2 linked regions of the Homo sapiens genome follow. The protein of the gene in region 1 purifies or fractionates together with the protein of each later gene. This does not show direct contact. Each region holds a gene or a part of one and is shown on either strand. Other genes may lie near its edges.

Evidence for each region.
Region 2: the proteins of PPM1D (region 1) and NTPCR purify together in Homo sapiens (affinity purification with mass spectrometry; one large-scale study listed by BioGRID and IntAct). This does not show direct contact.

Annotation. Positions count from the first base shown.
Region 1 is NC_000017.11:60,620,642-60,624,462, reverse strand, and holds part of PPM1D (protein phosphatase 1D), read right to left. Parts: intron 943-3,821; coding exon 714-942; intron 1-713. UniProt on the Homo sapiens protein: Involved in the negative regulation of p53 expression. Required for the relief of p53-dependent checkpoint mediated cell cycle arrest.
Region 2 is NC_000001.11:232,967,514-232,971,334, reverse strand, and holds part of NTPCR (cancer-related nucleoside-triphosphatase), read right to left. Parts: intron 1,427-3,821; coding exon 1,217-1,426; intron 1-1,216. UniProt on the Homo sapiens protein: Has nucleotide phosphatase activity towards ATP, GTP, CTP, TTP and UTP. Hydrolyzes nucleoside diphosphates with lower efficiency.

The sequences.
Region 1 (3,821 bases):
GACCAATTTTGATTTAATAAAAGCAAAAAAGAGGCAAGTAACGATATCATGGGAAGGCTTTAGTTAGAAGGATTATTTAGAAAACATTGGATTCTACTCAACTTGCCTCATATCCTCAATTTTTAAAAATTAGTATTGAGATAATTTTTAAATTTTTTCATGTTATTCACTCTCTTGATTTTTAGAATAATCTTTCATTTAAGTTTGAATCATAAAAATATAAAATTGAAATCAATTTCAGTTCCTAGTTTACAAATTACTTACACATTGAAACGCTAAGTTCAAACAAAGAAAACAATAACTGGAAAGGTTTGCAGTAAATCTGAAATCAATGAAAAAAGCTGAAGGTTAATTCTAACTTAATCTTTTTCCCCCAGCCAGATTCAAAGTGTTCTACTCTGGAACTCCAAGAGCTGCTCCGTCTAGATTCTGAAAGTCATCTGAAAGGTTTTCAGTAAAACCTTGAATTGTTTCCTTGGGGCTCACTGAAATATTATTTCCTATTAGAGTCATTATCAGAAATAAAAGTCAATTCATAGTAATGAGAAAAATATGAACATACATACATGAGTATTACATCAGACAAACTAAAAAACCTGTAATACTAAGAAAGTAACTTCAGTAAAAGGGACAGTAGTAGGTCAATTTCATTAGTAAAGCATAAAAGGACTAAATAGAACCAAAAGAGGAAAGAGAAAACGACAGAATGTTACCTCCCACCAAGTCCTTCGATTCGTTCTCTTTCCTTGGGAAGTTCTGGCTTATGGTCCTGTGTCACCTCCACAGCTCTGACAAAGTCATCCTTCGGGTCATCCTGAATTCCAAGAACCACCCCTGAGTCACCTACGTGAGCTACATACATCTTCATGCCCCGAATGATGACCACACTGGCAGTTGTCCCTGATGTGCTAGGAAGACCCGTCATAGTCTTTGGCCATTCCGCTGTAATAAGAAATAAAATATTTCACTCTTGCAAGTATAAACATTAATACACTGTCAGGATACAAATGGCAACAAACTCTGAATTAGCATGTTAACATTCGAATTAGCACAGGAAACAATTTAAGAAAAATATTCTGAAAACTACTAAAGGACTTAGGTTAATTAATGAATACATTAATAAATTAATGTTATAAATAATGCAATTATGATACAACTATCAAACCAATCCTAAGAGAAATATATTACAGGACAGGTTTACTACTGCTACATGACTCTTAGTCCTAACTACATTGATAGGAAAGAATGTGTTAAGAGGTTTTTTTAATCTGAATCAGTTTTGATTCAAGAGTTGTGGTATCATTTAGCCAGCCACTTAGCATCTGTTTACTCATATCTCTTCTAAAAGGCTTTCTGAAAAAGCTACTTGTTTTTCTGTTTTGTTGTTTTTTAGATTGAGTCTTACTCTGTCACCCAGGCTGGAGTGCAACCTCTGCCTCCTGGGTTCAAGTGATTCTCCTGACTCAGCCTCTCGAGTAGCTGGTATTACAGGCGCCTGCCACCATCCCCAGCTAATTTTTGTATTTTTAGTAGAGATGGGGTTTCGCCATGTTGGTCAGGCTGGTCTCAAACTCCTGACCTTGGGTGATCCACCCGCTTCGGCCTCCCAAAGTGCTGGGATCATGGGCATGAGCCACCGCACTCGGCTTGATTTGTTTTTGAAATAACTATTTTGAATAGTCACTACTTAACAAATTACATTTACTGAGTATATTCACTGTATACCAAGTTCTATACTAAGAGCTTTACATGTATTATCTCAAATAATGCTTGTGACGAACTTATGAGACAGATATGATTATTCCCTTTATTTATTTACTTATTCCTCATTTTGCAGATAAGGATATCAATACTTTGAATAATTAAGAAACCTGCTTCAGATAACTCAAATATTTAGGGGCAGAATCCCTGTATATTAAATTACAAACCCTATACTGTTTAATTAAATTCACTGTCATTCAACAATTCTGAAGTATTATGTAACACTAAACAAACTGCAACTTATAGTTCATGATGGCAAAATGAGTCCAAACAATGACATATTCTCCCCACCAAAATCCCACTGAAAGGACAGAATGTAAATGTTAGAAATAAATCCACAACATATAGACACACACAGAAAGGTCATAGGCAAAGATGAAGAATTCCTGGAAGTTTAAAGGAATAGAATTATGTTAAGAAAAAAAATAAAAATGCAGACTTGTAATCCAACATAAGCAAAAAGAAAAATCAGTAATAAAGACAGTAAATGAGTGTTCCTTTTTTTTTTTTTTGAGACAGAGTCTCGCTCTGTCGTCCAGGCTGGAGAGCAGTGGCATGATCTCGGCTCACTGCAAGCTCCGCCTCCCAGGTTCACGCCATTCTTCTGCCTCAGCCTCCCAAATAGCTGGGACTACAGGCGCCTGCCACCACACCCAACTAATTTTTTTGTATTTTTTTAGTAGAGACGGGGTTTCACTGTGTTAGCCAGGATGGTCTCGATCTCCTGACCTCGTGATCTGCCCGCCTTGGCCTCCCAAAGTGTTGGGATTACAGGCGTGAGCCACCACGCCTGGCCGATAATTTTTTTTTTTTTTTGAGATAACTCTTAACACGCTGGGAGTGGTGGCTCACGCCTATAATCTCAGCACTTTAGGAGGCCAAAGTGGGCGGATCACGAGGTCAGGAGATCGAGACCATCCTGACTATGGTGAAACCCCGTTTCTACTAAAAATACAAAAAATTAGCTGGGCGTGGTGGCAGGTGCCCGTAGTCCCAGCTACTCTGGAGGCTGAGGCAAGAGAATGGCGTGAACCCGGGAGGCGGAGCTTGCAGTGAGCCGAGATTGCGCCACTGCAGTCCGCAGTCTGGCCTGGGCGACAGAGCGAGACTCCGTCTCAAAAAAAAAAAAAAAAAAAAATACAAAAAATAGCCAGGCATGTGTGCCTGTAGTCCCAGCTACTCAGGAGGCTGAGGTGGGAGAATCACTTGAACCCAGGAGGTGGAGGCTGCAGTGAGTGGAGATGGTGCCACTGCACTCCAGCCTGGCCAACAGAGTGAGATCCTGTCTCAAAACAACAAACAAACAAACAAACAAACAAAACTCTGAGGTAGGGATAGTCTTCAATAAATGGCACTGGAAAACCTGGATATCCACATGCAAAAGAATGAAATTGTACCCTTGTCTTATACCATACACAAAAATTAACTGGAAAGTGATTAAAAACTGAAATGTAAGAAATACATTGAAAGCATAACTCAGGCCGGATGCGGTGGCTCACACATGTAATCCCAGCACTTTGGGAGGCCAAGGTGGGTGGATTACCTGAGGTCAGGAGTTCGAGACCAACCTGGCCAACATGATGAAACCCCATCTCTACTGAAAATATAAAAATTAGCCAGATGTGGTGGTGTGCGCCTGTAATCCCAGCTACTCAGGCAGCTGAGGCAGGCAAATCGCTTGAACCTTGGAGGTGGAGGTTGCAGTGAGCCAAGATCGTGCCGCTGCACTCCAGCCTGGGCAACAGAGCGAGAATCTGCCTCAAAAAAAAAGAAAGAAAGAAAAGAAAAGAAAAACAAAAAGCACAAAACTCCTAGAAAAAAAACATAAGGAAAAATCTCGACGTTGGTCTTGGCAATTACTTTTTTAATATGACCACCAAAAGAAATGGCAACAGGCTGGGTGCAGTGGCTCATGCCTGTAATCCCAGCACTTTGGAAAGCCAAAGTGGGTGGACCATGAGGTCAGGAGTTCTAGACCAGCCTGACCAACATGGTGAAAGCCTGTCTCTACTAAAAATACAAAAATTAGCCAGGCATGGTAGCGCACACCTGTAATCCCA
Region 2 (3,821 bases), on another chromosome or scaffold:
ACTCACTCTCCACTCCCCCTGATAGGAGTGGCCCTGCCTGCCTGACTTGTTCACTTGGCACTTGCAGGGCCAGGGAGCTTTTAAACTGGGGGTGGGGAGTGAGGTGTGTGAGCAGAGCTCAGCCAAGAGCACAGCTACCACTGACTCAAAGAAACTAAGGGTAGGGGTTGGGGAGAAGCAATATCTGACTGAGAGGAAAACAGAGGGACAACAGGGAAAGAAAGGCAAGAATTTAGACAAAGTGCCAGCAATGCCATGAGTCCCTTCCGACTGGCTCAGACGCTGCCACTGGTCAACAAGCCCTAGCCCCTCATCTCTCACATGTGGTCTACAGCAGTGCTTCTCAAAGTGCGGGGGACCTAAAAACCACATGAGAACTTGCCAGAACAGATCATGGGGCCATCCCCCAGAGTTTGACTCCTTGGACCAGGGCAAGGCCCACTCCCAGGTGATGCCCATGCTGCCATTCTGCAAGCCTCACACTGAGTGGCACATCCTACAGATGCACTAGTGAATGTAGCAGCCACACGAGACCACAGAGCACCTCAGATGTGGCCAGTGTGACTGAGAATCCAAATGTTTAATTCAATTTAAATTTGATTATTTATGTGATTAAATAAATAATTCAATTTAAATATGATTAAATTTATTAAACATAAATAGCGAGATGTGGCTAGTCGCTACTGTTCTGAGCAATGCAGAGAGCACATTTCCCTCACTACTGGGAAGTTCAACTGGACGGTGCTGCTCTTCAGCACCTGGAAGCTGTGTCTCCCAACACATCCACAGCCTCTTCTCCCCACAAGCACAAGTGGGTCAGCTTTAAAAGGGAAATCTTTAAAACAAAACAAAAAATATTTGCCTCTGTATCCCAACCTGGCGCCTTTCAATCTGAGAAGAGATAAGCTTAGAACAAGCACCTTAGCTCAGGCAATTCTGATGCCAGAGAGGTCCTAGTGTCTGGTGAGGAGATGGAAGAAAAAAGCAGCCAGAACAACTGGGACCGTCAGGAGGCCCCCCCATAAGCGAGTTTGTTTTTTCATCAAGTAGAGGTATAATTTAAGTTCTATACATTTCTAGAAAATTAGACTCACCTACATTTCAGCATGGAAGGGAAAAAATGTTAACTCAAAACCAAAGAGATATTTTAGAGCCATCTGCTATTTTAGATCATCTGCTCCATTTCCACTGATTATGGAGGACTGGCTGTACTCACATTAAACACCTTCACATCCTTTCTGTTTCTGATTTCTTCTACAAGAGCCAGTGGCTTTCCTTTAGGAACTGGGATTGTGCCAAGGATTATAGTCCCTGGGGTAGACAGCGTCTGACGAACAGCTTGAATGAAAAGCTGACTGAAGAGCTCCATCTTCCCAATCTCATCGATGACGCACACTCTTTGCCCTGGGCCACTGCTGCAGTCGGCCTGAGAATGACAAAGACTTTCACTGGGACATCAGAGTCACATTAATCAAAGGGCCCATGGGTCCCACTCCCCAATCACTCACCAATGAGGTAAAAAAGACAGAAACCTTTTTACTGGATTTCAAAAAGTGACAGCATCCCACAGACCACCGCTGGTACTGTGTGGGAGGGGACTGCACAAGGGTGAGTCCCAGGAGCTGGGAATCATTAGGACTCTTGGAAGCTGGCAGCTATGCCTGTCACCAGTGGGATGTTCAAGGAAGTAACGGACATAAATTGGAATAAAGTCATGAGAAAGAGAATCTGAGATCTAAAGGATGCAATTGTACTTACTTTTTTTTCCCCTTTAGCCAAGACTTGTTTCCTTTTAATTTTCACTTTTTTCCAACAACGCTTATGGACCAGATCATGAAATACACAAACATCTACCTAGAGCAGTTATCTCCCCCCCAGCACGTAGGGAATCTCATATGGCTCAAAATGGAAAAAAGAGGCCATTATTATCAACAAAGGCTCCCATGCTTGCTGTCTCACTTTTTTTAAGCCTGAGGTATTTGGGTGCCACTTATTTTCTGGTTGTATATAAATATAAAGCTTGATCTCTGTCTTGGATCCCCTCTCTCGAATCACTCACTCTGGGGGAAGAGAAGTGCTATGCTGTGAGGATACTCAGGCAGCTGACGGTGAGGTCCACGTGGTGAGGCACTGAGGCCTCATGCCAACAGCCAAGAGGAAATGAACCTGCCAGCAACCACATGAGCAAGCTTAGAGGCAGGGCCCTCCCAGGCAAGCCTCAGATGACCACAGCCCCAGCCAACAGCTTGACTGCAACCTCAGAACCCCAGCTAAGCTGTACCTGGATTCCTGATCCTCAGATACTGTGTACAATAATGTGTTTGTTGTTTTAAGCTGCTAAATTTTGAGATAACTTGTTCCATAGCAACATATAACTAACACACATGTCCTCTATAGAAAGCCTTCCTGGGGAAGGCTGACAGGACTTTGGTTGATTCTTCCCTGGGAGGGACAAAACAGAACATGTAATAAACACTTCAATGAATGGTGAATGACAAATACACCTTATATATGTTTGTATACATGATTATTTTGAAAACTGTATGTAAAGCTGATTTACAAAGTATTCTTCACTACAGTTCTGATTCCTTAAATGATGACAGCAATATAGTCCTAGAGGGCATGTCTGAGTTAAGCTAGATTTTGTTCAAATTCCAAAAGCCAAAGCAGCATATGGTACAGTGTGGCTGGTGGTAGGGATCAGTGGCAACCAGGGGCAGCCAGTGACAGACGGGGCTGCGGGCCCAGATCCTAAAGGCCTTCGAAGGCACACACAGAGGTGGGAATCTTCTCCCACAGCCGAAAGAGTCTAATCCAGGGAGGATCACAAGTTGTGCTAGAAAGACTGCTGGCTGTGGAGTCAGAAACAAATGTTAGACTCCTTTTGGAATAGACAAGATAAGATAGTGGGTGTCTAAACCCCAGTTGTGATTGCACGGAAGCAGTACAGCAGTGTTTTTCAGACTTTTAAGTAAACAGTACTCTATTTTCCTACTGCATATTGTACACTTATGAAATATTTTTCCATTCATTTTATTAGCTAAAAGATCAATAAGGAGTCCACTGTAATCACCCAAGAGAGGTCTGAACAATCTCCGCACTTCTGTGTTTCTGACATGCTTCATTTTTGCCTCTCTATTAAGTTTATCTGTACACACGCCTGGTCTCCCCACTTAGGGCAGGTACATGGTTGTCCTCGTCCGCATCCTTCCTGGGGAACTCACCGATGTCCCAGAGCTGAGAAGTGGGGAGCTGAAGGAGCAATGTCACCCTCCACTGGTGGGGTCGGGGAGAAGGGCAGAGCATCTATGAAGTAAGTCACTACTTATTCCAAGTTTTTCCTCCAAAACGAAAGCCATATTTGGGAGAAATAAAACAGCTATCAACCACCTGTCTATGATAATAAAAACAGACAACTGTACAAGAAGGTTTCTGTCTTCCTGGGGGCATGCCACTCCAACTGACCCGACTGTTCCCAAGTGCTGTGGACATTTTGCTGCCCCCAGAGACGAAGAGTAATTGTGGATGCCATTCCTCTGGAGGCTGTCATCTAAAAGCCAAAATAAAACTTATTCTGGCACCTCAAAATGAGTTTTGGAAGGTGCCAAATCAGACAAGAAGTGATATGAAAGAATGTGTGTACACATGCACATGTATTTATTTGACTATATACATGAGGGTAGTAAAATGCACGTGGCCATGTGTAAATACACACGTACAGGTAGAAAGTGTGTGGCTCTTCAACAACCAGCCTTCCTGCAATCCTCTAGAACATTCACCAGTGAAAGCTCATCAACATTTATTTAAGTTTCAGCACAAAA